Linked DNA regions of Homo sapiens. The protein of the gene in region 1 interacts with the protein of each later gene in a pairwise test. Each region holds a gene or a part of one and is shown on either strand. Other genes may lie near its edges.

The links.
Region 2: the proteins of TCHP (region 1) and NDOR1 interact in binary tests that used the Homo sapiens proteins (3 or more experiments, as listed by UniProt).
Region 3: the proteins of TCHP (region 1) and KRT24 interact in binary tests that used the Homo sapiens proteins (3 or more experiments, as listed by UniProt).
Region 4: the proteins of TCHP (region 1) and TRIM54 interact in binary tests that used the Homo sapiens proteins (3 or more experiments, as listed by UniProt).

The regions. Positions count from the first base shown.
Region 1 is NC_000012.12:109,902,847-109,911,335, reverse strand, and holds part of TCHP (trichoplein keratin filament-binding protein), read right to left. Parts: intron 8,310-8,489; coding exon 8,122-8,309; intron 7,416-8,121; exon of another isoform or gene 7,400-7,415; coding exon 7,189-7,399; intron 6,600-7,188; coding exon 6,543-6,599; intron 6,508-6,542; exon of another isoform or gene 6,322-6,507; intron 4,765-6,321; coding exon 4,696-4,764; intron 3,811-4,695; coding exon 3,637-3,810; intron 2,751-3,636; coding exon 2,638-2,750; intron 2,466-2,637; coding exon 2,399-2,465; intron 274-2,398; coding exon 101-273; intron 1-100. UniProt on the Homo sapiens protein: Tumor suppressor which has the ability to inhibit cell growth and be pro-apoptotic during cell stress. Inhibits cell growth in bladder and prostate cancer cells by a down-regulation of HSPB1 by inhibiting its phosphorylation.
Region 2 is NC_000009.12:137,207,261-137,215,749, reverse strand, and holds part of NDOR1 (NADPH-dependent diflavin oxidoreductase 1), read right to left. Parts: intron 3,249-8,489; coding exon 3,151-3,248; intron 1,971-3,150; coding exon 1,872-1,970; intron 1,784-1,871; coding exon 1,682-1,783; intron 1,547-1,681; coding exon 1,337-1,546; intron 1,181-1,336; coding exon 1,059-1,180; intron 953-1,058; coding exon 732-952; intron 656-731; coding exon 548-655; intron 344-547; coding exon 229-343; intron 92-228; coding exon 1-91. UniProt on the Homo sapiens protein: NADPH-dependent reductase which is a central component of the cytosolic iron-sulfur (Fe-S) protein assembly (CIA) machinery.
Region 3 is NC_000017.11:40,696,570-40,701,320, reverse strand, and holds the end of KRT24 (keratin, type I cytoskeletal 24), read left to right. Parts: intron 1-24; coding exon 25-181; intron 182-937; coding exon 938-1,099; intron 1,100-1,197; coding exon 1,198-1,323; intron 1,324-1,659; coding exon 1,660-1,877; intron 1,878-2,670; coding exon 2,671-2,783; intron 2,784-2,980; coding exon 2,981-3,084; 3' UTR 3,085-3,330; downstream 3,331-4,751.
Region 4 is NC_000002.12:27,291,608-27,300,096, reverse strand, and holds part of TRIM54 (tripartite motif-containing protein 54), read right to left. Parts: intron 1,531-8,489; coding exon 1,358-1,530; intron 853-1,357; coding exon 681-852; intron 568-680; coding exon of another isoform or gene 442-567; intron 1-441. UniProt on the Homo sapiens protein: May bind and stabilize microtubules during myotubes formation.

The DNA.
Region 1 (8,489 bases):
CCAGCCAATAGATATTTCAGTAACAGGTGACCCATGGGGCATTTCAAGGTATCAGAGTTGAGGCCAGGAGCATCCAGCCCAGTCAGCAGCTGCCACTCACCTCAGCAGCATCTGCAGCTCTGCCTCCCGCGCCCGCTCCAGCTGCAGCTGCTCCTCAATGGCCTGCTTCATCCAGGCCACATCGGCCATGACCTGCTCCCGCCTGGCCAGGTGGAGGCGCTGGCTCTCGTCCTCCTTCTCGAGGAGGGCCTGCAGGATCCGCCTGTCTGCCTCCTAGAGGAAGCAGAGGGCGGCACGTGGCTGGGCTGGACAGAGTCCTTCTGCAATGAGAGCCTACAGAGGGGCCTGCCCTCCCTTTCCTTTCTACATAGACATTCGTGATTCTACACAGTGTTCTCAAGACAGAGATGGGAAGATCCTGGATTATTTCTGGAACAGACTGGGGATAATCACGAGGGGTGGTTCAGACACTGCACAGGCCTAGGAGCTTCTCTCTGGCTAAAGGGAGACCCAGCCACCACCACATGCCCTCGGATACACCTGGTTGCACAACTTTTTGGAATACAACTTGGCAAAAATCCCACTTATAAGAACAAAGACCACAGTGACACAAAAGTGCAAAACACTCGTTGCAGCTTTTAGGTAAGAGGGAAAAACCAGAAACAACCAAAATGCTCCTTGGTGGGGAATTAGCTACTATGTACATCAACATAATGGAAGCATTAAAATAATGCAGGAGGCTGGGCACTGGGGCTAATGCATGCAATCCCAGCACTTTGGGAGGCTGAGGTGGGAGGATCACTTGGGCCTAGGAGTTCAAGACCAGCCTGGGCAATGTAGCAAGACCCCATCTCTACAAAGCATTGTGATGTACACCTATGGTCCCAGCTACTCGAGAGGCTGAGGTGGGAGGATGGCTTGAGCCTGGCAGGTTGAGGCTGCAGTGAGCCGTGATTGCGCCATTGCAATCCAGCCTGGACAACAGAGCAAGACCCCATAAAAAACAGCTGCACACCAGGACCAACCATGCCACTGTGCCCCATGTCCTGCCCTGACCGCAGTGGGCAGGGATGGGAAGGGCAGCTTAGGTCTGTCTCCCTCACTTCAAGGGAGCTCATCAAAGTACTTAGGAATACAAAGGAGCTATCTGAAAAGAACAGGTTCAATCTAAGCATAATGACCTTTTTTTGTTTTTTTGAGACAGAGTCTCACTCTGTTGCCCAGGCTTGAGTGCAGTGGTGCAATCTCGGCTCACTGCAACCTCCACCTCCTGGGTTCAAGCAATTCTCCTGTCTCAGCCCCCCGAGTATCTGGGATTACAGGTGTGCACCACCATGCCTGGCTAGTTTTTGTTGTTGTTGTTCTTGTTTTGAGAGAAGTCTCGCTCTTGTCCCCCAGGCTTGAGTGCAACGGCTTGATCTCAGCTTATTGCAACCTCCACCTACCAGGTTCAAATGATTCTTCTGTCTCTGCCTCCCAAGTAGCTGGGATTAAGGCGCCTGCCACCACACCCGGCTAATTTTTGTATTTTTTAGTAGAGACAGGGTTATACCACATTGGCCAGGCTGGTCTCAAACTCCTGACCACAGGTGATCCGCCCGCCTCAGCCTCCCAAAGTGCTGGGATTACAGGTGTGAGCCGCCACGCCCGGCCATGTCCGGCTAGTTTTTGTATTTTTAGTAGAGATGGGGTTTCACCATGTCATTCAGGCTGGCCTCAAACTCCTGACCTCAGGTGATCCGCCTGCCTTGGCCTCTCAAAGTGCTGGGATTATAGGCGGGAGCCACCGCACCTGGCCGATCTTTTTAAAAATTAAGAGATTTAGTGTTAATTGAAGATGCTGAGGAATGCAACCTCAATTAGATTTAAATACAAAAACAAAAACCTCCACCTCTCTGTATGTAAATACATCTAGAAAGATGTGAACTAAACAGGCACCTCTGGGGATAGACAGAGATTGCAGGTGCTGGTCAAGGGGGTGATCTCACTTTGTGTTGTGCTGCTTTTTAAGTAACACAGTTACTGAAAAATAATTTGATGTTTTGATACCTGTATCTATCCATCTATGTATACACACAGACACTGGGAAAGGATCCTTACGGTCAAGCTAATTAACATATCCATCACCTCACAGTTGGTTTTCATGGTGACAACACTTAAGATTGGCTCTCTTAGCAAATTTCAAGAATACAATATGGTATCATCAGCTGTGATCAACATGATGGACACTACTCCCAGATCTCCCAACCGAGGGATGTATCCTTTGACCAACATCTCCCCTTTCCCCCAACCCCTCACTGTCTTCATTCTTACGAGAATGCACTCATATACTAAGCAATGGAAGGCCTTTTTTACAAAAGAGGCTAAGAAAGATGTCAGGCTGTCTCTTCAGACTTACCAGCTCCTCTTGGATCTGCTGTGTGCGTCTGCTGAGTTGAGCGTTATACTGATGTCTCAAGAAACGCCTGAAGGAGAATCAAATGTGGGCTGCCTTCAGTATCTCAGAAAGAATTAAATAGAAGTTAGATAACTGCTGACCAGGCTGTCTCCTTTATGGTTTCAGCAACACGAATGCAAGTCTGAAAAAGCAAGAGGCCCACCCGCCTGGGAAGAGTGGGGGGCCCTTCTGACACACACCCCAGCTCTGCCTTCTGCCGGAAGGCTTCCATCTGCTTTCGCTCTTCCTCCAGCCTCTCTAGCTCCCACCGCTGCTTCAACAGATTCTCCTGCTCCTTCTTTAGTTTGGTCGCCTGTGGTGATGATGAGAGTAAGCTCGACTGAGATCTGAGATCGTGGGAATCAGATCTTCCTTCATTCTCCATCTCCATTTTTCGCAGACACTACACCAACAGAGGCCTGGCCATGCAGGTGGTCACGATCCCCTCCCACCACTCACTTACTCATCCAATCCCCTCTGAGCCATTTCCTGCAAGGGCCTTTCTGAGCCCTGAACTCTAAACTCCCACAGGATCCTGTACTGGTCCACTCTTACTGTAACTTAACAACTGTCCTCCACCTGACACAGCCCCCACCAGGAGGTCAGGACTGTGGGCCTTGGTCAGGCTCTATCTCTAGTTCCCAACCCAGTGCTCAGCACCTAGAATAAGCAGTAGGCACTAAGAATGTAGTTGCTAAATCACGGCCTGGGCAAGGGGAAGTGAGGTCACAGGAGCATGGGCCTCCCTCTTCTAAATAGAAAGATCTCTTTCAAGGAAACTGTGCCATGTTCTCCAAAAACAGCCCCTGGACCAAAAACCCTCAGTTATGCCTCGAGACCCGAAACCTGCTCCCCACGGAGAGCTGGGTGCTAGACCACCCGATTAAATTGTGTCTACTCAGTGCACTGGAAAATCCAGATTCTAAGAAGGTTCTCCAACAGCAGGCCGCTAACCACCTCTAAGAGAACAGCTACTGGCTCCATGTCGTTAATGTTCTGGAATTCAGGCACGCAAACGAGGAGGATGGGAAAGCACAAGGCAGATGGGGATGCATGTGAGAGGGAGAACCCGGCTGCTGCCGCCCTTTGCAGAATCTCAGCCCTGCTATGGCCTCTTCTTAGGGCAGCCTCTCAAGTGCCCATCTCATGCTAACGAGCAGCTGTGGAGGAGGTCACGGCTGAGAGGGGCTTGTGCCCACCTCCACCTCCTTCAGCTTCAGCTCCTCCATCTGTTGCAGCAGTGCCTCGGCCTGGAGCTTGTCCTCCAGCTGCCTCCTCTCCTCTTCAGCTTTCATCCTTTCTAGCGCCTCCCTTCGGGCCCTTTCATATTCATTTTCATACCGTTTGTTCTCTTGCTCTGCGGTGGCTTCTTGCTACAAGGGACCAAATGAACACAGGTCAATATCTGTACCGTAAGCCAACAAAAACCTAGCTTCCTGCCGCCGTTCTGCAGGCCACAGGGCCCAGGCAGTTCCTGCCTGAATCCCAAATGACAACGCCCTCAGACGCCAAGTCAGGGAGGGACTCAATAATGTTGGGTTTCCTCCCCACTCAACAAAACACTTTCTAAAATGAACCAGGCAGCAAAGCGACCAGTGCACAGAGGTGTGGAAGCTTAACCCCAAAGGGGTTACAGTAAGCCAGGGCTGCGAGTTTACGATGCAGATTTCATCAAAAGAGAGACAAAAATGCCCTTAAAGACACACGTCCTAGCTGGACCCTGTGGCCCACGCCTGTAATCCCAGCACTTTGGGAGGCCGAGGTGGGAGAATCGTTTAAGGCCAGGAGGCCAGACCAGCCTGAGCAACAGAGCAAGACCCCATCTCTACAAAAATTAAAAAATTAGCTGGGCGCAGTGGTGCGTACCTGTGGTCCTAGCTACTCGGGAGGCTGAGTTAGGAGGACTGCTTGAGCCCAGCCAGTCGAGGCTGCAGTGAGCTGTGAGTCGCGCCACTGCACACCAGCCTGGGTGACAGAGCAAGACCCTGCCTCCAAAAGAAAAAAAGAAGACGCGTGCTGTATGTGCCACCTCCCAGCCCTGGTCACCTGGCCTTATTCTGCCCTGGGAATTATCACATAGGATTCTGGTATATGTAAGAGCAAACATTCAGTTTTCACATGTGTCAAGTAAACTAAGAAAAGAGTACACTACACTCCTTAACTGGAGTCACTGATGCTGAAAACGGTAAACGAATGCAAAGACGTGAACAGTCTCGCACAGCAGAATACGCGGCTATTCCCAGAGCCACATACCACACCTGTTTTTTTTCTTCTTTCTGCATTTCCCAAGAGTTTACGACATGCTTCTGGTGAAGGTCCAGCTCCATCTGAGGATGGAAGGGGGACGATGTGAATTTCCTCACCAGACAGATGGGCACTGTGGGGACAGTGTGCTCCTGCCCTCTGTGCCACCTGCGGGAACGTGGCCATGACTTCGCTTCATGGGGACTCAGTGGCACAGGCGTCTAGTAGAGAGCGTGGGGTGACTTCAACATGTATAGTGTGAATGCATGTCAATCAGAAGACCAAAGGACCAGGCACTCCTACACCAATCTTTTGAGCTGGTACAAAGTAACAGAGACTTCCCTCCCACTAGCCCTAGGGTTGGGCTGGACGCTGAAATGGAAATACAATTTCAAAGGCCACCTTGGGTTGATGTACTGCATGCCAGGCCCTGGGAGACAGCTGAGTGAGAAGACTCAACCCTGTGCCTGGCTCCCCGAAGTTTCCTCTGCAAAGCAGATGGACTACGTACTCCCTGTATCAAGTGATGCACCAGTAGGTGCAACAAGTTTAGCATTGTTAGTAAGAGATTTGAGCGCAGACAATCTCCTGGATTAGAAAATGGATCACAACATTCAATCCAAATCTTTTGTTTGGGAAACTGTTTATAAAATTAGCTGGATATGGTGGCGCCCACCTGTAGTCTCAGCTACTCGGGAGGCTGAGGTGGGAGGATCACTTGAGCCCAGGTTTGAGACCAGCCTGAGCAACACAGGGAGACCCTGTCTCTATAAAAAAGTTTTAAAATAATCTTTCCCAACTTACAGCTGTGAACATAGGCAATTAACTTGAATGTTCTGAATAAACTTTTCTGATTTAACGGCTCTGGATGATTCCACCGAAGCCAACAGGGCTAAGGAGTCCTCCCACAGATTAGTGCAAACTGCACAAAAGCACCAGATGTTCCATTATTTAGTGCCTGGCGATTTCTAAATGTAACTACGAATAACACGAAGGCACCAAATGTATACAAAAACTGTAAGTTGAAAATAAATGAATAACAGTGAGGGATGATCTCCCTGCAGCCAAATCTCCACTGAACAAGGCCACCAAGCCAAGAGGCCACCCCCTCCCCTGCCAGCCCAGTTCAGGCCTTCACCAACCCCCGGCTGGGCTGTCGCAGCACCCCTCCCTGTCGGCGGGCACATTGCTACCAGAGGAGTCTCTCTGAAATGCAGCTGGGATCCTGTATGCTGCCCCCAGCCCCTTTGGAGGAAGGTCACACAAGCTCTTCCGATGTCTGGCACCCTCTGCCTCGCCAGCGTCATTTCTTGGGGTTCTCCCTCACTATCTGACATCCTAGCCTCACCCAGACACTTTCAGCTCCCAGGGCTCGCTCTGTTCTCGAGTCTCAAGCCTGGTTCTCACAGTCACATCAACCTAGAACATCCTTTCCTCACCTCTACACACATACATCCCTTCAAACTCTTCCACCCCAGGAACTCCTCTGGGAAGCCTCCCCAACCCCTCCAGAGTTGAGTGCGCTGGCCCATGCTCATCCTCTCAGGCTGGCCCAGCACCCTGCATCCTGCCCTGTAATGAGCTCCCATGCTGGACACAAGCTAATGAGCAGAAACCATGTCTAATCTCCATGCCCGCACCTGGCAGACCAGGCAGCGGAGGTTCAATCAACATTTGTTCAACAACCGAATGAGCCGCTCAGCGCAGCCTGTGCCAGATCTTCTGCCTGGCGCTCTTTTCAGGTGGCTCAAGGTTCCCTCCTCTGTTTCAACCCGGTACAAGATACGTGTTCAAAAAAAAAAGTGTCTGGAAACATGATTTCATCTACTTAGATAAATCAATGGAGATCTCTGATTTTCACCTCTCGAAGTTTCGGGTTGTTCTTTTTCCAGTGTTCGTACAAAAGTTGTTCAGCAATCTATCAAGAAAACACAAAATGGAAAGCCTGATGTCATTTTTCAAATCCATTCACATTTTGGATGACACACAGTGGAAGTCAGCTCAGGCTATGAGTGCCTCCCTTCACACCGTCACTGCAACCACTGTTCAAACCCTCATGCTTCACATGCACAGCTCTGAGAACCACATGGCACTACCAAGTGACTCTTGCAATGATGACAAAAGGGGGCCAAAATCTGATGCTACACAGAGGTCCTATCTAGGGGGTCTCAAAATAATACAGCAGGCTGAAAAGCACAGATTAGGGCTCACTGTTTCACATAACTACTTTGGAAGGTAAAACAGACTAGTCCCAGATCTCTGTGGACCCACAGAACTGGAAGAAAGGAAAAGCACTCAGATGTAATGATTGAAGGGGCTAAAGAGACTACAGCTAACTGATCCAAAACCCAGTCCCTGCACAAGGACCTAAGCTCTTTTCCTGCTGGCTCTGGAGTTAACTGGCATCTCATCAGACCTGAGCACCCAGGAATGACCCTACATGTGCGACACACTCAGGCTGGGAACACTCCTGCTCCACAGCCTCCTGAAGCCCTCTGGGGAGTTACCAGTTTCCTCTGCTCTTCTTTGGCTGATTTCAGCTTCCCGTGCTGCTCCCGGATTCTTCTTTCCTGCAAGTTCATGCTCAGCCTCAGCTCCTCCAGTTCTCTGGCCAGCAGGTCCTGCTCCTCCTGCATGAGCTGCCTGAGCTTTTCCCGTCGGGCCTCCAGACTCCTCCTCTTCTCCTCCTTCATCTTCTCCCGCTGATAGGCATGCATGCTGGGTGAGAGGGGGCCTGCCTGAATCAATCATGCTACAGCCACAGGGAACGTGCTCTGCTCTGCTGTGTCGGTAAAAGAGGCTGAGGTAGATGTGTCATGACGACACAGGAATGTGTCCCCAGCCAAAGCAGAGACAGCAGGTCACAGAATAGTATGTGTAAGAGAAAATCTTGTTTTTTGCAAAAAGAAAATGTATAAATGTATAAATAATGTATATATTATCCATCACATAAATCCTACAGCATAGGTCTGCTGTAGCCCCACTTGATTGATGAGGAAACCAAAGCTCATACATTCAGCAAGAGACACGGTCAGGATTTCCATCTAGGTCTGACTTCAAAGCCTATGCTTTTGGCCTCCATGTTTTTACACGTATTTCTATAAAAGTAGCTTTGTGTGTGTATATTTAAGCACAAATACCAGTGGGAAACAGCATGGAAGGATATGTGCCAGACTGTTAACTGTGGCTGTCTCTGGGGATATGGGGTTACAACCAGGCTTCCAAATTCTATCATATGCTTCTGCATCATTTTATCTTTTTCAATGCCAATGTATGGCTGCACTGATGATCTTTTTTTCCATTTCCAGCTGGAAAAACATCACCATGCAGGTAATTCATACTGCCTGGCAAATCCTACGCTCCCTAAATCCTTAAGGCCTCATCCCCTGACCAGCAAGTGGTCCCCACTTCCATCCAATCGGCAGTTACCGCACAATTACCTCCGCTGGTAGGAGGTTTTAGAGCTCCATTCTGCCTGTTTGGAGCTGCAGATGTCAGACATCCTGAAGTAACGGCTGTTCTGCTCCCACTGCTGCCGAAGCCGGGCCTCCTGCTCTCGCTGTCGTGCTAGCTGCTGATTCAGGCGCTGCTGGCTGCACCAGTAGGACGGCAGCGTCGGGAGCGCCATCTGAGAACAGGAATGGGAGGAAAGTGAGCCACTGCAAATCCCAGGAACCCTCACCAGCTTGGCCTCATCCCTTTAACGAGTGGTCACCACCCCTTGGCTGCACAGTGAAATCAACTGGTGGAACTTTAAAACAAACAAACAAACAAAACCGTGTCTGAGCCCCACTCCAAACTAATTCAA
Region 2 (8,489 bases), on another chromosome or scaffold:
GTGCCAGGCCCCACCATGATCACAGGTGTGTCTGGTGTCTCTGGGAAGGCCAGACTCCCAGGCCGCACCCAGAGGGGCACCCGGACAGGTCCTATTGCAGGAAGGAGGTGGCATGAAGAGGATCAAAGACCTGTGCTGAGTCTGCTGGGGCCCTAGCCCAGCATTTGCATGAGCATGGGAGAGAAGGGGATATGGGCCCACGGCCCCCACCCTGGGAGCAGGGGTCACCTTGCCCAGGGTCCAGGGATGCCAGCCAGGAGGAGCAGAGGCCCCGGCGGGGCTCCTTGAGGCGAGTCTGGAACTGCACTACAGCCACGAGGATCTGCAGCCGTGAGGGGTGAGTCTGGGGAGGACGGCGGGGTGGGGGTGGTGGAACAAGGCTGCCCTCACCTGTGCCTGGGCCGTGGGCCCCACCTACCTCCCGCAGAGGCAGTCCGACTGGGGGAACGTCACCTGGTCAGAGGGCAGCCCCTGCTTACAAAACCCCACAGCCCCGGTCCCAGCTTTCCCAGGGCCGGTCCTGGGCTCCAACCACCAGGCCCCTCACCAGCAGCGAGGAGGCGATGGAGAAGGCCCTCGGCCGGATAACGGGGATGAGGTCCAACAGGTAGTCGGGAGGGATGGCGGCAGCTGTGTGCGGGAAGTCACAGAGCACCTAGGCAAAGAGAGTCTCAGGGTGGCTGCAGCGTGGCTGTAGCTCAGGGGCTGGGCCTGCCGCCCTCCCATCTCACCTCCAGGATGGTCCTGCGGGGCCGGTTGCAGTATTCAAAGAGCTCCTCCTGGCCTTGGGCAGAACTGAACTCCAGCAGCTTCTCCCGCTCCAGCTCATGGAGGGATAGACAGGCCAGGAGTTCGAAGAAGGAGCGGCGAGGCACGCTGGCGATGTCCAGGTAGTGGGACACGAGGTGCCGCATGGAGCAGGGCTGGGGCAGCCTCGTGGGGGAGGAGACATCTGCAGGGTGAGTGGGAGGCCTCCGTGGGCTGCGGCGGAGCCCTTGGGGTGGGGGCCCAGGGCACGGGAGAGGGCAGAGAGTCAGGGTGGCCGAGGCTGGGCTCACCTGGCTCCCGCGGCTGCAGCATGAAGAGCTGGTCAGGGTCCAGGCCCAGCACCTGGCAGAACCGCTGGACATGGGCAGCCGAGTTGGAGGGCTGAATCAGCACCACATCACCAGCAGCAAAGCTGTGTGGAAGAAGCCACCAGGGCTGTGGGGACGCCGCAGGGAGGATGTCGGGGCCCCGGATAGAAGTCATCCCCTGCAGCCCGGCCCAGCCTCCTCCGAACCCCAGACCCACGGCCCACCTCACCTTGCCCTCCTCGGTCCCCAGCAGTCCCCACCTGATGCCAGAGCCCAAGATGTCAAACTCAATCAGCCGAACGTCCTGGAAGTGGGAGGGGCCGGTGACTCTCTGGTTGGAGATCATGGGTGCTAGGAAGGGCTTCGACTCTGACGGGGGCTCCTGAGAGCCGGGGTGAGCTACCCGCTGCCCCTCAGAGCCCGTGCTGGGTGCCTCTTGGAGGAACAGCAGGGTGAACTTGGAGGGCAGGCTGTGGGAGGGCACGCTGGTCAGACCAGGACCCACTCCCCAGGGGCCGCCCACCCACACGGGAGGGACCCAGGGCGAGGTCCCCAGGCCAGGTTGGGTCTGCTGCGCCTGTGGGTGACCCGGGGCCCACACTCACGGGACTCCGGGAGGGATCTCAGTGAGGCCCGGAGGCGGCGGGTACAGCCCCAGAACCCTGTCCCACAAGTCTCGCAGCCAGGGGTCCACAGCAGCGTCGGGCCTGGGAGGGAGCACGTGCGCTGGCCTGAGCGGACCCTGCGTGTGGCCAGACCAGACTGTGGAGGCGGGTACCACGCCCGCAGACTCACCCCAGCTCATGCTGGTCATCGCCCAGGCACACGGGCAGGAGGGCGCTGCCCCCAAGCTGCAGTAGCCGTCGGTGCAGCTTCTTGGCCACGAAGTTGAACCTGTGGAGACAGTGAGGCTGGTCCTGGGCTGGAGCCCGGGCGGAGAGTGGTGCCCAGGCAGAGTGGAACCCGGGAGAGTGGAGCCCGGGCGAAGAGTGGAGCCTGGGGAGGGCCTCCCTCGGGTGGAAAACACACTCCACGCTGGCCGCACCCTAGGAGGGGGCAGGGCCTCCACACGCCAGGGGCTGCCGAGACCAGGGCAGCTGCCAGGGTGCCAAGCAGCAGGTCCTCTGCTCGCAGAGAATGAGCCTGTGTGGGTGGGAGCAGGCGGCCTCGTCCCACTGATGGGCCCTCATCCCTGGGCAGGGACTTGAGGCAGCTGAGGCCTCCAGGCCCCCAGCCAAGATGTGGGTCACTCCTCAGCTGAGAAACTCTGTGCTGGGGAGAGAGCCAGGCATCTTCCCGGGGGTCAGTTTCTCTTCTCACTCTGGTTCCGAGGCATGACTGGCTCTGGGTCACGCTCCTCCCTGGGAACGCTGTCGGCAGCGGCCTCCCTCCCTCTCTTGAACGAACACTGTGTCCCACACAGAACAACGTCACGCAGGAAACAACGTCATGCACGGACCTACGTCACGCACGGAACAAAACCTCCCGGCAGAACCGGGGGGAGCTGTCTCCGATCTTCCCGTTCTTTTTCATCTGAAATGACTGACACCTGGCTATGCAAACGGCTTTTGATGCTCGGTGCTCAGCGGACCTGGGCCCTACGTGGACAGTCGGGGTTTTCACCGTTGTGGGGTCTAAAGATGCCATTTGCACACTGAACATGCCACTCCTTGCTTAGGGTGCAGAGGAGCACTGTGAAAATGCCCAGGAGAAAAGGCAGAGGTGGCCTCTGGGGTGGCAGGAGCATACGGGGTCCTCCTCCAGGCTCAAAGTCGTCAACACTTCACAGCACGCCTTTTTGTAAAAGTGGGGACCGGCGCCAGGTAGGCCTGTGTGACGTCAGCGTGGCTGGAGCCCAGCCCTTTGCCACCCTGCCTGCTCCCCTCTGTGCCCTCCCCGCAGCGTGAAGCCTGGGGTGCCCACCAGGGAGCGTTGTGGAGAAGCCAGTACCACTGCGAGGGCCCTGAGGCGCGCAGGGGCCGACCCTGGAAGCTGGTCTCGGTCCTCTGCCAGCACACCTGTTGCTCGACCCCCAGAACTGTTCCGTCCGCCCACTGTCCCATCCCCTACTCACTTGGCGTATGAGGAGTCCCCGAGGCCCAGGACGGCAAAGTCCATCTGACAGAGGGCAGTGGAGGGCAGGTTCTTCCGGAATATAAACCTCCAGAAGTTCTACAGCCGGAGGAAACTCTGAGTCAGAGTCCTCGACCTCTAGGCTAGCCCCACAGCAGGGGGTGAGGGGAGGGTCTCAGGGGAACAGGCAGGTGGGTAGGATGGGGGCAGAATACAACTGGACCTATCTGACCAAAAGGCAGGGCCCAGGTCCAGCCTGCAGGATGATGGGCACCGGGAGGAGGCAGGGCTGGTCCAGCGTCTAGGGAGACCAGGTCCCACCCTGCCCACAGGAGCCAGACCCTGCTGTGCTCTACAGGCCTGCGTGGAGCTTCCTTCCTGGGACATCACCCTCCTCTGCCCCAGGCTCTGAGCTGCCAGGAGCAGCTCTGCACTTGGTCTCCAAACTGTCCACCGCCCCAGGGGTCCCTCACCTCCACCTGTCATTTCCCAGCCAGAGCGTGGGCCTCCACTCCCTGAGTTGGTCTGTCCCAGAGGCTCCTATACTCAGACCTCTGAGGTCCATCCCAAGGGCTCTCACACTCGGCCCTCTGAGGTTCCAGTGTCGCTGAGACACATCCCCCTCCTTCCGTGGCTGCAGGACCTCGAGCCAACAGGGTCCAGATCCTCTGGTTCCACACCGTGCCTTCCACGGTGTCCTCCCAGCTTGATCAGAGGCCCCCCCAAGGAACCTACTGCCCCCTCCCTACCTGGATCCCAGGTGGCCTGTGTGCGTGGTCTTCGCCGCCCACCCACCTCCCCTTCCCGTGGCCAAGCATGGAGGCTAGCAGACAGGGAGGCCCTGGCCTTGTCAGCCCACAGCTCTGACCCTGGCCCTGGACCACCCCTGGCCTCCCGGGACCTCACTGCCTCATCAGCTGCCTCTCTGGGCCACGCTATGCGAGCAAATGTACCCAGCCTCTTGCCCCCGAGACCCTCCCTAGCGCCCTGCTGTTGAGACACCCTTGCTTCCTGAATCCCAAAAGACTCTCTTCCCTGCTCCGTTTGGTGAACTTCCTCCTTCCCGAGAAAAGGGTTCTGGAGAGAACATTCTTGTGACTTTTCCCTCACTCGACTGGCATGCGGCTGGGTCTGTCCTGGGCTTGGCACCACCACTGAAAAGCCAGGGCCCCACTTGCTGCCCTTGGGGTGTGTAGGGCACTCTGTCCCCAGAGGCTAAACCCACAGTGACATGCCCCGGGGGTAGCCCTTTCATTCTCAGCAGGGCCCTTCCTGGGCATGGGGCTCTCTGGCCGCAGACCCCGCTCTAGACATCATTACTTTCCTGGATAACTTCCTCTCCACCATTGTCTTCTCATTCTGAGGCCACTGGAATTATCTTCGAATTTTGGTATCTGCTTCCTTCCATTTTCTATCTTGCTTTTTGTCATACTTTCTAGAAGGATTTCTCATCTTTTTTTGAGATGGAGTCTCACTCTGTAGCCCAGGCTGGAGTGCAATGGTGCGACCTCAGCTCACCGCAACCTCCGCCTCCCAGGTTCAAGTGATTCTCCTGCCTCAGCCTCCCAAGTAGCTGGGATTACAGGTGCGTGCCACCATGCCCGGCTAATTTTTGTATTTTTAGTAGAGACAGGGTTTCACCATGTTGGCCAAGCTGGTCTCGAACTCCTAACCTCAAGTGACCCACCCACCTCGGCCTCCCAAAGTGTTGGTATTACAGGCGTGAGCCGTCGTGCCCGGCCTTTTTTGTTGTTGAGACAGGGTCTCATTCTGTCATCCAAGCTGGAATGCAGTCTTGAAATCACAGCTCACTGCAGCCTTGACCTTCTGGGCTCAAGCGATCCTCCAACCTCAGCCTCCCAAGTAGTGGGGATTACAGGTGTGTGTCACCACGCCCAGCTAATTTATTATTATTTTGTTTGTAGAGACTGGGTTTCGTCATGTTGCCCAGGCTGGTCTCAAACTCCTGGGCTCAAGCGATCCTCCCACACCTTGGCTTCTCAAAGCGCTGGGATTCCAGGCTTGAGCCACTGTGCCCAGCGTCTTCTAATCTTTTAAAGTTTTTTCATGTCCATTTAAAGAACTATTTCTGGCCAGGTGTGGTGGCTCACACCTGCAAACCTAGCACTTTGGGAGGATGAGGCAGGCAGACTGCTTGAGCCCAGAAGCTTGAGACCCCATCTCTACAAAAAATACAAAAAAAAAAAAAAATTAGTTGCATGTGGTGGTGCGCACCTGCAGTCCCTGCTACCCAGGAGGCTGAGGTGGGAGGATCACCTGAGTCTGGAAGGTCAGGGGGCAGTGAGCCGTTGATGGCTGCCACTGCACTCCAGCCTGGGCAACAGAGCAAGAGCTCTGTCTCCAGAAAGAAAAAGAAAAAGAGAAAGAGAAAAAACTGTTTCCTGTTCCTGAGTCTCCAGCTTTGCCCCGTGGGGGTAACATCCTTGGCTGCTTCAGCCTGTGCCCGTCTCTGCCTGTTATGCGGGTCTTTCCTCGGGTGGGGTGTGGTTCTTTCTGGTGCATGTTTTCACCCAGGCTGGAGTGCAGTGGTGTGATCTCGGCTCACTGCAACCTCCACTTCCTGGGTTCAAGTGATTCTCCTGCCTCAGCCTCCTGAGTAGCTGAGATTACAGGCATGCACCAATACACCCAGCTAATTTTTTGTATTTTTAGTAGAGATGGGGTTTCGTCATGTTGGCCAGGCTGGTCTCAAACTCCTGACCTCAGGTGATCCACCCGCCTCGGCCTCCCAAAGTGTTGGGATTACAGGCTTGGGCCAGCGCGCCCAGCGCCCCATGGGTTTCTTCACCAGACAGGCAGGGACCTGGTCACTTGGCCTTTCACTGTGGTTCCTCTGTTTTCTCCTGTCTGCTGCTGGGGGCACCTGCCTCACCTACAGCATCCTCAGCAAGGAGCCAGGGTCTTCCTGTTTCGCTGTGGATGGAGAGCCAGGGTCCTCTGGTTTAGCTATGGATAGCCACTAAGACTCGCCCCTGCCTCTGAGGCCATGGGCCCTGGGTCCACAGCCTCTTCAAGGAGCTCCCAGTTCCCGCTGTGGGCATTAGCTGCCCCCTCCAACTCCTGGTCTTCTCTGTGGGTGCCCACACTTGGGACTCTTCGTTTCCTCGTTGACCTGAATCCCGGCATTAGCACCAGCTTCCTGCCACTGGCTGACTGAATGCCCAGCCCAGCCTCAGTCCCTCTCCTCTCCCATGCTCTGGGGCTTCCCTATCCCACCATTCCCCTCCCGTGCCTGTGCTCCACTCTGAAACCCCTTCTCTTCCATCCCACTCTATCTGAGACCCCTCGACCTATGTTCAGCTCTCCCCCAAGCCGCTGCACATCCCCTGCCATACCTACTCAGTCTTCAGCCTCTTTCTCCTGTCTCTCCCCTGCCAGCAATTAAACATGCCAAGTTTTGGCCGGGTGTGGTGGCTCACGCCTGTAATCCCACCACTTTGGGAGGCTGAGGCAGGTGGATCACGAGGTCAGGAGATTGAGATCATCCTGGCTAACACGGTGAAACCCGATCTCTACTAAAAAAATACAAAAAATTAGCTGGGCGTGGTGGCGGCGCCTGTAGTCCCATCTACTTGGGAGGCTGAGGCGGGAGAATGGCGCGAACCCGGGAGGCAGTGCTTGCAGTGAGCTGGGATCAACGCCACTGTACTCCAGCCTGGGCGACAGAGCGAGACTCCGTCTCAAAACAAACCAACAACAACAACAACAAACAACAACAAAAAAAACATGTCAAGTTTCTCCCGTCTTTTTTTTTTTGAGACAGGGTCTTGCTCTGTCGCCCAGGCTGGAGTGTAGTGGTGTGATCACAGCTCACTGCAGCTTTAACCTCCCAAGTTCAAGAGCTCCTCCCGCCTCAGCCTCTGGAGTAACTGTGATCACAGGCATGAGCCACTGCACCAGTTCACTTTGAATTTTCTGTCTCATGATGCTGCCCAGTCTGGTCTTGAACTCCTGGGCTCAAGCGATCCTCCCACCTCGGCCTCCCAAATTGCTGGGATTACAGGCATGAGCCACTGTGCCCGGCAAACGTCTCTCATAAAAAACTCCTTCTTTTTAACTCTTTAGCCTTTTCACAGCCAGATGTGGTTTTTTGTTTGTTTGTTTTGTTTTTTGTCTTTTTTTTGTTTTTGAGACGGAGTCTCGCTCTGTCGCCCAGGCTGGAGTGCAGTGGCGCGATCTCGGCTCACTGCAAGTTCCGCCTCCCGGGTTCACGCCATTCTCCTGCCTCAGCCTCCCGAGTAGCTGGGACTACAGGTGCCCGCCACCACATCCGGCTAGTTTTTTGTATTTTTAGTAGAGACGAGGTTTCACACCGTGTTAGCCAGGATGGTCTCGATCTCCTGACCTCGTGATCTGCCTGCCTCGGCCTCCCAAAGTGCTAGGATTACAGGTGTGAGCCACAGTGCCCGGCTCTTTTTCTTTTTTTTTTTTTTTTTGACAGAGTCTAGCTCTGTCACCAGTCTGGAGTGCAGTGGCGCAATCTCAGCTCACTGCAACTTCCGACTCCCTGGTCTAAGTGATTCTCCTGCCTCAGCCTCCCGAGTAGCTGGGATTACAGGCACGCACCACTGCGCCGTGCCCAGCTAATTGTTGTAATTTTAGTAGAGACGGGTTTCACCATGTTGGCCAGGCTGGTCTCGAACTCCTGACCTCGTGATTCGCCCGCCTCGGCCTCCCAAAGTGCTGAGATTACAGGCGTGAGCCACCGCAGCCGGCCCGCACTCAAGACATTCTTAAAAGATGCTCTCCACTCACTCTCTCAGTTGCTGATCTCCTGTAATCTGGCTTCTCTCCCCATGAGCCACTGAAGCTGCTCTTCCTGGTATCACCAACAATCCCTTTGCCAAGAAATCCCATGGATCCCTCTCAGGCTTTATCTGATTTGACTTCTGTGCAGCTTTACATGCCAGAGCCCTTCCTGGAACACTCACTCCCCCAGTCCTCTCCTTGGGGTGCTGCACCCTCTCTTCTAGCTGCTTGGTCACTCTCCTGCCCTCCTGGGCTCTAACGTTCTGGGCAGCCTGTCCTGTGGGGAGAGAGGAGCTTCCTCTTCTCACACTTCTGTATTGTGGCTACCTCAACACCTATCTCCGCCCCAGGATCTTCCTTGGAGCGCTAGTCCTACTGCACTTCTCCACTTCAATGTCTCCAGGTTCCCTTCCTGCACAGCCCCCTACTCCCACCGTGTTCTCTGATTTCTGTGGATGGAACCACCATCCATCTTGGTTCCAGAGCCCACATCCCTGTCTCGATTCTGCTTGACCTATTGGGTCCGTTCCATGTCCCGGGGACTCTCTCTTCCTGACACCACTGCAATGT
Region 3 (4,751 bases), on another chromosome or scaffold:
TTGCCTTACTGCTGCCCCTTCCAGGTATGAGAACGAGCTGTGTCTCCGGCAGAGCGTGGAGGCTGACATCAATGGCCTGCGGAAAGTCCTGGATGACCTGACTATGACCCGCTCTGACCTGGAGATGCAGATTGAGAGTTTCACCGAGGAGCTAGCCTACCTGAGGAAGAACCACGAGGAGGTAGGAACATGTTCTACATAAACGAATAACTCTAGCTAACATATTTCTCCCCATATGCATTCTATACAAATAAAATTGGCTGGGTGCAGTGGCTCATGCCTTTAGTCTCAGCTACTCTGGAGGCCGAGGCAGGGGGATCCCTTGAACCCAGGAGTTGGAGGCCACAGTGAGCTATGATCATGCCACTGGATTCCAGCCTGAGCAACAGAGAGATACTGTGTCTCTAAAAAAGTAAAATAGGCCTGGCACGGTGGCTTATGCCTGTAATCTCAGCACTCTGGGAGGCCAAGGCAGGCAGATCATGAGATCAGGATTTCGAGACCAGCCTGACCAACATGGTGAAACCCCCTCTCTACTAAAAATACAAAAATAAACAGGGCATGATGGCGCACACCTGTTGCACCTGTAATCCCAGCTACTCAGGAGGCTGAGGCAGGAGAATCACTTGAACTGGGGAGGCGGAGTTTGCAGTGAGCCGAGATCAAGCCACTGCACTCCAGCCTGGGTGACAGAGTGAGACTCCATCTCAAAAAGAAAAAAAAAGAAAAAAAGGTAAAATAAACTCATTTTTATCTAAGTGAATTTCCCACATACTATGACCAGGAAACAAAAGTAATCATGAGTAAATTATACCTAGATTTGATTTTTTTTTTTTCCTTTCAGTGTCCTACTTTCAAATTGTTGTTGTCTAGGCACATTTTCGGAAGTCATCACTTTTCTGTTTGCATCACGATAGTCTTTTTTCCTTCATGCTAGGAAATGAAGAATATGCAAGGAAGCTCTGGAGGGGAGGTGACCGTAGAAATGAATGCTGCGCCAGGGACCGACCTGACCAAATTACTGAATGACATGAGGGCGCAGTACGAGGAGCTGGCTGAGCAAAACCGCCGAGAGGCTGAGGAGCGGTTCAACAAGCAGGTAGATCCTCTCTGCTGAGCACCTAAGCCAGTAGCCACACACAAGCCGCTTCTGCTCCTTTCATCAGCCTACAACAGCTGCATTATGTTTGTATTTAGAGCGCATCACTACAAGCACAAATCTCCACTGATGCTGGGGCAGCCACTTCTGCCAAGAATGAGATAACAGAACTAAAACGTACCCTGCAAGCCCTGGAAATTGAGCTTCAGTCCCAACTGGCCATGGTATGTGCAAATAGCTTTTCACATTTTCCAACAGGGAGTTAAGCAAATGCAGTTTTCTTTCTTTGCCAAGAGGTTCACTAGGCACATAAAAAAGGCAGTGTTAAGGAGAACTGCATTATGATTATAGAAAGCATTAAAAGTTAAAGATAATGTACTCTATTTTGCATAAAAGATTTAGTTTAAAAAGAAGTGCCAACCAAAATTAAAGAAGCAATGATATAACAATATAGGTTATATGGCGAAGGTGCACTTCTAGTGCCACATAAAATTGCATTTTTAAAAAATCATCCAATGATTTATTTTCATCATGAATTTTTTATTTGCTTTTTCTCTTAGAAAAGCTCCCTGGAGGGAACCCTGGCTGACACAGAAGCTGGCTACGTGGCTCAGCTGTCAGAAATTCAAACGCAGATCAGTGCCCTGGAGGAGGAGATCTGCCAGATCTGGGGTGAGACTAAATGCCAGAACGCAGAGTACAAGCAATTGCTGGACATCAAGACACGCCTGGAGGTGGAGATCGAGACCTACCGCCGCCTGCTCGATGGAGAGGGAGGGTAAACCAAAGTCATGAACAAACTAAAATGCATACCTTAGTGAATTTATTTTATAAAACCAAAATGGGACTCAGGGCTTAGACTTGTATATATAGAGAGTAATAAAGTAACAGACACAGGCTGCGTGCAGTGGCTCAGGCCTGTAATCCCAGCACTTTGGGAGGCTGAGGTGGGAGAATCACGTGAGCCCAGGAGTTCAAGACCAGCTTGAGCAACATAGCAAAACCCCTTCCTCTTCAAAAAATAATTTTTAAAAAATTAGCTGGAGGCTGGGCACAGTGGCTCATGCCTGTAATCCCGGCACTTTGGGAGGCCAAGGCAGGCAGATCACGTGAGGTCAGGAGTTCGAGACCAGCCTGGCCAACATGGTGAAATCCTGTCTCTACTAAAAATACAAAAATTAGCCAGGCGTGGTGGCACACACCTGTAGTCCCAGCTACTCAGGGGACTGAGGCGGGAAGATCACTTGAGCTCAGGAGGCTGAGGCTGCAGTGAGCTGTAATCATGCCACTATACTCCAGCCTGGGTGATAGAACGAGACCTTGTCTCAAAAAAAAAAAAAAAAAAATTAGCTGGGCATGGTGGTGCACACCTATAATCCCAGATACTGGGGAGGCTGAGACAGGAGGATCACTTGAGCCCAGGAGTGCAAGGTTGAACAAAAAAGCAGCAGACACAATCCAATTAAAACACATAAACACATCCAAAACTTCATCATGAAGAATCCCCGGGGCGGAGGCTTTCTCCTGCCTTTGCAAACTGCAAAGGAAAACATAATTCTTTTTTTCTCCAGTGGTTCTAGTTTTGCAGAATTTGGTGGTAGAAACTCAGGATCTGTAAACATGGGATCCAGGGATCTGGTATCTGGTGACTCAAGATCTGGAAGCTGTTCTGGTCAAGGACGAGGTAGACTTTTTTTAATATTGATAATAGTTCTGTAATTTAAAAGTGAAGACATACTTTGCTTGTCATACTAAAAGAGTCCGCTATTTTTTACATAATCTTACCCAGACAGAACACGTTGAATGCATGTGATTGAATTTCTCTTGCTCTGTGTTTCTGTGAGAGTTTCCAGACTGACATTGCAATCCCATGATTTTCAGATTCAAGCAAGACTAGAGTGACTAAGACTATCGTAGAGGAGTTGGTGGATGGCAAGGTTGTCTCGTCTCAAGTCAGCAGTATTTCTGAGGTGAAAGTTAAATAAGGAACTTCCAGATCAACAAAAGTGTCTTTCAAAGAAAAAAAAATCAAGAAGGACACAAGCGAAGAAATGGCATCAATCTAGGCATCTTTCTGGATAATTTCAGGAAAAGCTTCAGTCCAGAAATGGATGACTAGCCAACTTTTCTGCATCTTCTTATTTCCTCATTAGAATGCTCTTGAAATAGCTGAATTAACAACTTTGCTTTAATTGTTTCTATGCTTCAATAAATTTACTTTTGCAAGTTAATTATTACTTATTTTTTTAAAAAGTATTTTACCTAGGAAGGAAGCTATCAAGTATGATCTAGCTGCATGACTATATTACTAATGTCAGTTCATTCTTTATATCTTACTGTTGTAACTGAGCGAGTTATAGAGAAATGACACACTCTGAGACTAATTCAGGAGTCCTTTTATTGCCGGCGAACAAGACGGCTAGAGCTCAAAATTCTCTCGGCCCCGAAGAAGGGGCTAGATTTCTTTTTATATCGTGGTCTAAATAGGGGAGAGGGAGTTTAGCTGAAGCAATTTTTACAGAAGCAGAACAGGCAAACCAATTAAGAAAGATTAATTGGTTACAGAAACAGTTACAGAAAAGTAAACAGTTCCAGGTGCAGGGGCTCAAACTATCACAAAGAGATAATGCAGGGGCTTTGGGTGCCATCCCCCAAGCGCGTCCTCAGGAACTGCTGATTTAGCTTGCCTCGATATCTCATCAGTAAGCGCATTCCTGGATGTGCTCGGAGTCAGCTTGCACTACTTATGCCTTTAAGGGAGGGGAGCTGCAAGTGAAGAAACAAAAATGGAGTCTGTCCGGCTCTCTCAGCTAAGAGAGACAATCAGGTTAAAACGAGGTAGGGTATCACATTACCTTCTTTATACAATTCAGATTATAGTCATTTTTTTAATGTGGGCATTTTTAATGGCATCACATAAGAACTCAGTGGCATGATAGCTGAAATTAGACTACCGTGTCAACGGCTTAGCCCACAAAGAAGGATGTGATTATTTTAATAATCAACTTATAATTAATGTCTAGTTTATATATGTCCATCACTGAACTCGATATTTTATAAGATAAAAAAGAAACTCAAAATCTCCCTCCTACTTCAAAAAGCTCACATTTCAGCAGAGAAGAAGAGCTAAAACACAAAGAAGACAGCAAGCAATAAAAAGCTGTTAATAGTAAAGACTTGATTTCACAATCTGCATCAGAAGTGACATAGGAATCAGACATGTGTGTTTACAGGACATTTAGGACAGGGGCCAAAAAAGAGTCTTGGGAAATAAGATTGGCTATGTGATATGGCAATCTGATTTCCTGAAACCTTGAAAGCCCCAAAGAGAAGAGATCCTCAGGCACTTGTTCCCCTGCCAAATCTAGCCACATCTTTAGCCAAAACCTGCCACTTCGCCAAGCTGGTGTTTCTTTTCCCCAGTCTCCACTGCTAAGATCTTTCATCCCGTTGGTGGTCATAGCCCTATTCTTTCATTTCTACAGTATCCCTGAGGCCACATGGCTTTGTCTTGTCTTGTTTGGGATGATGAAACCTGTTAAGATTGGGTAGGAGGTGGTACGGGCCCCAGGAAGAACCAGGCATAGCACCAACCCAGGCTGGCTAAGGGCTTTCTCAATCAAGGAATTTAATATGCCCATATCACAAATTA
Region 4 (8,489 bases), on another chromosome or scaffold:
ATTGAGGTGGTAGGGATCACTTGAGCCCAGGAGTTCAAGGCTGCTGCAGTGAATCACAATCATACCAGTGCATTCCAGCCTGCGCGACAGAGATCCCCACATCTCTTAAAAAATAAATAAATGGAGCTGGGCGCAGTGGCTCACACCTGTAATTCCAGCACTCTGGGAGGCCAAGGTGGACGGATCACATGAGGCCAGGAGTCAAAAAAAAACCAAAAAACAAAAAAGCTGGGTGTGGTGGCACATGCCTGTAATCCCAGGTACTTGGAAGGCTGAGGCATAAGAACAGCTTGAACCCGGGAGGCTGAGGTTGCTGTGAGCCAAGACTGCACCACTGCACTCCAGCCTGGGCGACAGAGCGAGACTCCATCTCAAAATATGATAGATAGATAGATAGATAGATAGATAGATAGATAGATAGGGCTGAGTGCGGTGGCTCACATCTATAATCTTAGTGTTCTGCGAGGCTAAGATGGGAGGATCACTTGAGCTCGGGAGATCAAGGCTGCAGTAAGTTGTGTTTGTGCCACTGCACTCCAGCCTGGGCAACAGAGTGAGATCCTGTTTCTAAATAAATAAAGAAATAAGTAAACAAAAGATAAGTGGAGTAAGAGGCTGACACTGAGACCCTGTCCTAAGCCCCCATCTCTCACATATCTACTCCCTCCCCTGTTTGATACCTTCTGGCGTTTGTAAATGGTGGGCAGTGGGGCCACCTCACAGTCCTTGTGGGCACCGAAGACCTTGCAGAGAGAGCAGGTGGGCACCTCACAGCTCAGGCAGTAAATATTGATCTTCTCTTCTTCATGCTCCTCGCACATGAGGTGCTGCTCAGCCTTGGAGTGCAGCGGCCTAGAGAGGAGTGGGCAGGGGGAGGTGGACCTTAAGCATGAAGGGTCCTAGGAATACCTTCTCTTCAGCCTCCACCAACTGCCACCACCTTCTCCGCCCCTGCAGCTAGTGCTGTGGCTGAACTGGTGAGTACTTCCACAGAGCTCTGAATTTGGGGAACAGAAGGAGCTAAGAGATAGAGGAGGCCTGGATCCGAGAACAGTCTGTATTACAAGGGGGCAGGGAAGTCCCACAGGACAGGAAGTCTTGGAGGGTTAGCGAGGATCTTGCTGGTGGACTGCCAGCCTCTCCCAGGAGGAGAGGGTAGGAGTGAAGTACTGGCTAGGGAATCAGAGACTGCCCTCTCTGGGAGGCCTGAGGCAAGTCCCTCTCCGGATCCAGTCCTATGGTCTCTAGACAGAACAGGCAGGTTGACCGTTTCAATCTCTCCCTTTTGGCTCTGATGGGTTCCTTGGCTGTGTCCCAAGCCCTGTCATGAGAGAGGCAAGAGACTCTGGTGGCTCACCTGGATGACTCCTGCTTGTAAATGTCGATAATGTTCTCCACTAGCAGGTTTCGCTGCAGGCCGTAGACACCGTGTCTGTCCAGGACAACCTCATGCCTGCACGATGGGCAGCGGAAACGGCCTCCTGAAGACACAGTGGTGGAGCCCCGGGACTGCCATAGAGGATTCGAGGCCTGCAGGGACAGATGGCTTGAGAGAACAGGCACGGGGAGGCATGAAGGGACTCGGAGGAGGCAGGGGGAAAGGGCTTGGGGGCTAGGGAGTAGGAACTTGATGGAGGGGAAGATGTCAGCTCTTCTCTGTGGCTGGATCCACCTCTGAGAGCAGCGCACGGTGGACGGCCATGGAGACCCTGCTTCCCACCTTTGCCTCATTATTCAGCCCACCTCCTAGAGTGCCCCTGCATCCAGAACTCAGCTTTGGTCAAGGCATAGTCAGGATGGGATCTCTCCAAAGGGGTCCAGCTTGGAGCCATGGGGAGACATTGGTCTTGGCAATAAGGCTGAGGCAGGAAATGAACTCTGAGTGGTGCGACCAATGTCTTCCAGTCTGGGGCCCTCTTGGGCCACAACTGGAGGAGATTCTCTGCAGTCCTGGGCAGGGGTACAAGCAGATACAAGTGCTCAACAATGGGGTTCACAAACTGTAACTAGCCAGGTAATTCTAGAAAATTGCTCCAGGAACTGGAAGTCAGGAGTCCTGGGTTCTTGTGCTATCTCTGATGCCCTCCCCCCGGCCTTTTTTTTTTTTTTTTTTTTTGAGACAGGTTCTTTCTCTGATGCCCAGGCTGGAGTGCAGTAGTGGGATCACAGCTCACCGCAGCCTCGACCTCCTGGGCTCAAGCAATCCTCCCATCTCAGTCTTCTGAGTAGCTGGGACTAGAGGTGTGTGCCACCATGCCCAGATAATTTTTTTTATTTTTAGTAGAGATGAAGTATCACTATGTTGCCCAGGCTGGTCTTAAACTCCTGACCTCAAGTGACCCTCCCACCTCGGCCTCCCAAATTGCTGGGATTATAGGCGTAAGCCACCATGCCCAACCTCTTAAGTATATAAATTTAGGCAGGTATTCAACCTCTGTAAAGCTGAGGATAAAATTATTCATTTATAGTGTGCCAGGTAGTTGCTGGACTCTGAGTTAAAGATACAAAGAAAATGCATCCTGTCCTAAGGACAAGCACCTGACAACTGCATCCAGCAGGATGGGTGTTGTGATAGGGGTAGGCTCAGAAGGAGGACTTAACAGACACCCATCACTTCCTCCGGCTTACATCTCTTGCCTAGAGTAGTTGCTCCATCCTATCCTAGAAGGGAGATCCCTGCCACAGATGATTGATTCAGAGCTAAGGAGGTGATCACCTGACCCAAGCAGAACCAATCAAATATTCTCTCCTAAGAATTTGGACTTGAGACTCAGGGGCTTAGCTGGCTACGCCATGTTCTGCTTAGGAATTGAATAGACCTGTGGAATTGGGCTAAGAGCTGACATCACGGCCACCCTGGAAAGTGTAAGGGGTCAGAAACTGAACAGAGAAGGCTGGTCTACAGAGAAAAGAGTCTATGTGTGGGGAGATGCAGAGATGAAAGACTGGCAGACACTGCTTATTGTACCCTGACGTTCACCACCTTTTCTTCTTTAATAATAAGTGCCCTGAGTTTTAACAAGACACATGGTATAAAGGGCTGGGTGTGGTGGCTCATGCCTGTAATCCCAGCACTTTGGGAGGCCGAGGTGGGCAGATCACTTGAGCTCAGGAGTTTGAGACCAGCCTGGGCAACATAGCAAGAACTCATCTCTACTAAAAATAAAAAAATTAGCTGGGCACGGTGGTGCACACCTGTAGTCCCAGCCACTTGGGAGGCTGAGGCAGGAGAATTGCTTGAAACCAGGAGACAGAGGCTGCAGTGAGCTGAGATAGTACCACTGCACTCCAGCCTGGGCAACAGAGGGAAACTCCATCTCAAAAAAACAAACCAAAAAACCCATGAATCTAAGCCTCCCTTCCAGCTGGGTGTGGCCAATTGGCTGTGCTCTGGGATGTAGATGCAAATGTTTTGTGTAATTTGTAGGAAATTGCACAAACCGTCTTTCATGGGAGGGGCATGCCCTGCTCCTCCCCTTTTCTCCTGCCTGCTGGCTGGAAAGAAGACGGGATGGCTCAAGTTGAAGCAGCCGTCTTGAGCCATGAAGTGGCAGCCACATGTTGAGAATGGTAACGAGATGAAAGGAGGTCTCTGATGAGGCAGTCCTGCACTGTCCACCCATACTTTCACTTGAGAATAAAGCAAATTTTTACCCTCTTTAAGCCACTGTTATTCTGGGGTTTCTGCCACTTAGAACAGAACCTAATCCCAACTGGCTGGAAGATTATGCATTCCTAGAGAGTAATGGAGACAGTGGTCACCTATGAGCTAGCATAGTGAGATGCACTTCCTACAACTGGGATGCATGAACTTCTCCAAACCCTTACACCATACACAAACCAGAAGACAGTTTGGAAGGCCCCTTGCGTGTGTGCAGCAACACCCCATCATGCACAGAGTGCAGCCAAGTCAAGGGTCTTGTTTGATCCTTTGGTAGCAAGGGCTGTAGGCAAGGCAGGAAACGTGGACCCACTGTGAAGTGAGCAGCTTATCTTGGGGAGAGTAACTGGTGTGTGCCATAAATATCACATCTTTCTTGGGATTTCTTGAGAATCATGTTAACCTTTAAGCCCATCATAAACCTGGGGCAGATTAGTTTGAGATAATTCAAGGCATGTTTGTACATCTGCCTTCTCAGTAGCTAGAAATGTATGAATATTGTTGAGTTTAGTTTAGGGAATGCGTTAAAGTGTATAATCACTTGCCTTTTGTTTGCTTAATACAATTACTTTTCAATATTTAGAACCCAAGTGAGGAAAGAGGTGTTGGGAGAACTCTAAGGCTGCAGTCTCCTGTCTTTCTTATCTTTGATTTGCTGATGGCAAGCATATAGAGATATTTGAATGGGAGGAAGGGGGACCTATATCCCACAGCAAAGATAAACTCTTGGGCAGCCGCTCTCCCCAACCTCCATCCCTCACTGCACCCTTCCTCTTCCTGAGCCACAAAGGCAGGGATACTCATTACTTAACATTCAACAAATGTTTTGAGACCAGGCGCGCTGGCTCATGCCCGTAATCCCAGCACTTTGGGAGGCCGAGGTGGGTGGATCATGAGGTCAAGAGTTCGAGACCAGCCTGGCCAACACGGTGAAATCCCGTCTCTACTAAAAATACAAAAATTAGCTGGGTGCGGTGGCAGGCGCCTGTTATCCCAGATACTTTGGGAGGCTGAGGCAAGAGAATTGCTTGAACCCGGGAGGTGGAGGCTGCAGTGAGCCAAGATCATACCATTGCACTCCAGCCTGGGAGACAAGAGTGAAACTCCGTCTCAAAAAAAATATGTTTTGAGGGCTTATCATGTGTCAAGCATCGTGTCATGGGTTTTCCAGACATTGTTGTATTTATTCCTCAAGAACTTCTTGTAAAGATGGTTGAGGATCCCAGCTACTCGGGAGGCTGAGGCACAAGAATCACTCAAACCCTGGAGTCGAACCCAGGAGGCCGAGGTTGCAATGAGCCGAGATTGCGCCATTGCACTCCAACCTGGGCGACAGAGCAGGACTCTGTCTCAAAAAACAAACAAACAAAAAAAGATGGTCGAGGAGGTGAACAATCACTCCTAACTTAGTCTACAAGAAATAGAATAATAATGGCTAACATCTACTGAGCCAGGATTTGCTCTAAGTCTTTCATTTGTATTAATTCACTTAATCCTCATATCAACCCTGAAGTAGGTAATACTCTTTTTTTTTTTTTTTTTTTTTGAGATGGAGTCTTGCTCTGTCGCCCAGGCCGGAGTGCAGTGGTGCAATCTCAGCTCACTGCAACCTCCATCTCCTGGGTTCAAGCGATTCCCCTGCCTCAGCCTCCCAAGCAGCTGGGACTACAGGCGCCTGCCACTATGTCCGGCTAATTTTTTTGTATTTTAGTAGAGACAGGGTTTCACCATGTTGGCCAGATGGTCTCAATCTCCTGACCTCATGATCCGCCCACCTCAGCCTCCCAAAGTGCTGGGATTACAGGCGTGAGCCACCATGCCTGGCCCTGAAGTAGGTAATAGTCTTAGCCCCATTTCAAGGATGAGGAAATTGTGTCTCAGTGAAATTAAATAAATTGTACACGGTCATGAGCTAATAGGTGGCAAAGCCAGTACTGGAACTTAGGCACTCTGACTCCAGAGCCTGTCCTAATAATCATTGTGTTCCATTGTCAGACACAATAAAACTTAGGCCAGGCTGTGCACGGTGGCTCATGACTGTAATCCCAACACTTTGGGAGGTCAAGGCAGCAGGATGGCTTGAGTGCAGGAGTTCAAGACCAGCCTGGGCAGTACAGTGAAACCACGTCTCTACAAAAAGAAGAAAAAGCAAGATGGCTCATGCCTTTAGTCCCAGGTATTTGGGAGGCTGAGGTGGGAGGATCACTTGAGCCCAGGAAGTCAAGGCTGCAGTGAGCTGTGATCATGCCACTGCACTACAGCATGGGTGACAGAGGGAGACCTGTCTCAAAAACAAAACAAACAAAAAACAAAACAAAAAAACCCTTAGAGCTAATATTCATTTCTCTGAGTCTCAGGCAGAGGCAGTTTCTTTTACTGTTGTTGTTGTTGTTATTATTGTTGTTGTTGTTTTTGAGACAGAGTCTCACTCTGTCGTCGGGCTGGAGTGCAGTGGCAGGATCTTGGCTCACTGCCACCTCCACCTCCCGGGTTCAAGCGATTCTCCTGCCTCAGCCTCCTGAGTAGCTGGGAGTACAGGCACGTGCCACCATGCCCGGCTAATTTTTTGCATTTTTAGTAGAGATGGGGTTTCCCCATGTTGGCCAGGCTGGTCTTGAACTCCTGACCTCAGGTGATCCACCCACCTCGGCCTCCCAAAGTGCTGGGATTACAGGTGTGAGCCACCTCACCTGGCCGTTTTTTGTTTTTGTTTTTTAAGTAAAAAAAGTAAAAGGGTAATGAAGGAACAAACCTCAAACCTTCACAGAGGAAAGAAACTACAGCCTGAAAATCAACTATGCAACTGTGGACTAAAGCTATTTAAGCAAAGATCAACAAAAGATGACTCATCAAATTAAAACCCTGTGTGCCATGGAGCTCTATAAGGGCCCTGCTTTCAACCAGAATGACCTGTTTGTCTGTGAAATGGAGAGGAAATAGCTCAAATCTCAGGGGAGACCTCCTCCCATGGACCTGTGTGGGCCTCTATGGTAGATAAATCACCGGATTCTGCGTGAAAAATACTCCAAGACAACACAACCAAATTGAGACACTCAACTACCTATTAATTCAGGTCATACCCCTCTATTCACCAAAGAAGGCACAGAACTAAAGAGAGATTGCAAAACCAATGACAACATCCAACCAGGCAGCTTATATTTAAGAGGACAGTGAAAGAAAGCCAAGATAAACACAGTGGGTTGAGTCAGGAATTCACCTTCAGCTCCAGATAAAAGTACCCTGATAAAAGGGGAGTGATAAGCAGACAGAATCCAACAAAAGATGCAAACCAGATAATACAAAAAGAAAAGAAAAAAGAAAGCTTGACAAACAAGGGACAGATACTCCAAGAATCAATACCATTTCGATATACCATTTTAAAAGAAATAACAAAAACAAAGAGATATAAGTGATCAAAACTGGAGAAGAAAAGAGAGCTGGCAGAATTAAGGAAAGAAATCAAGTAAATATCAACACAGAAAAAAAATCCACATTTGACAGGAGAATGGATGATGCTGATAAAAGTCACATAGATTGCAATAGAAATTATCAGCTAAAAGTAACCAGGTCTGCAGTCTGTAACATGGATAAACCTTGAAGACATTATGCTAAGCAAAATAAGCCAGACACAAAAGGACAAATATTGTATGATTCCTCTTAAATGAGGTACCTGGCATAGGATGGATGGTGGTTGCCAGTTGCTGGAAGGAGGGGGAGTAGGGAGGTATTGTTTAAGGGGTGTGGGGTTTCAGTTTGGGGTGGTGATAAAGTTCTGGGGATGGATAGTGGTGACAGTTTCACAACAATGTAAATGTATGTAATGCCATTGAACTGTACATTTAAAAGGTTAAGGTGGTACATTTCATGTTATGTGCATTTTACAAAAATTAAAAAAAATTTTTTGAGACAAGATCTCTCTCTCTGTCGTCTCAACTTCCTGGGATCGAGGGATCCTCTCACCTCAGCCTCCCAAGTGGCTGGGACTGCAGGTGTGCCACCATGCCCAGCTAATTTTTAAAAAAAGTTTCTGCAGAGATAGGGTCTTGCTAGTTGCCCAGGCTGATGTCAAACTCCTGGCCTCAAGCGATCCTCCTACCTCAGCCTCCCAAAGTGCTGGAATTTCAGGGGTGAGACCCCATGCCAAGCTTACAATTTTTAGAAAGAAAAAAGTAATCAGGACTTGGGCTATCTTGGCCAATGTCTTCCTTCAAACTCCCCACAGCCAGAACTGACTTCAGGACTTGACCTGAGGGAGGCACACTAACACCACCTCTTCAACACCCTCCCACCTGCCAAAGCAATTTCTTTAGCAGCTCATCGCATTGGTTAGTCATTGCATTTATTCTGGAGCCCAGAAGGCTAAGAGGCATCAGTACTCAGGCAGTCCAACCCAAGTCCTTTGAAAAGTTCCTGTCTTGGGAGAGAGAAATCGGGAGTGTGTGAGCTCAGGGTGCAGGGCGGTGGGGAGAGGCTGCACCTCTGCTTTCCCACCGTCTTGCTCAGGGCTGGTGCTGCTCCCTGCTGCTGACACCACAGTCCCGTATTTTGCGTGTAGCTTTCATCCCCCAGTCCCAGAGTCCCCTCCTGATTCACAAGTCCAATTTCTCCTGCCATATCTCCGTCGGGCCTGGCTGGCTTTCATCTTAATCTCCAGGGCAGCCCTTCCCTTCTGTGATTGCTTCAGCAATGCTAGCCCCCAGCCAAATCCTAACCCCACTTCCTTTGCTAGTCTTTCTGGCCAATATTTACATACATGTGCTTTTTGGCATTAAGACTACATTTGACTTGTAATAAAATAGTAAAATTTATCCTTCAGACTTTCCAGGGC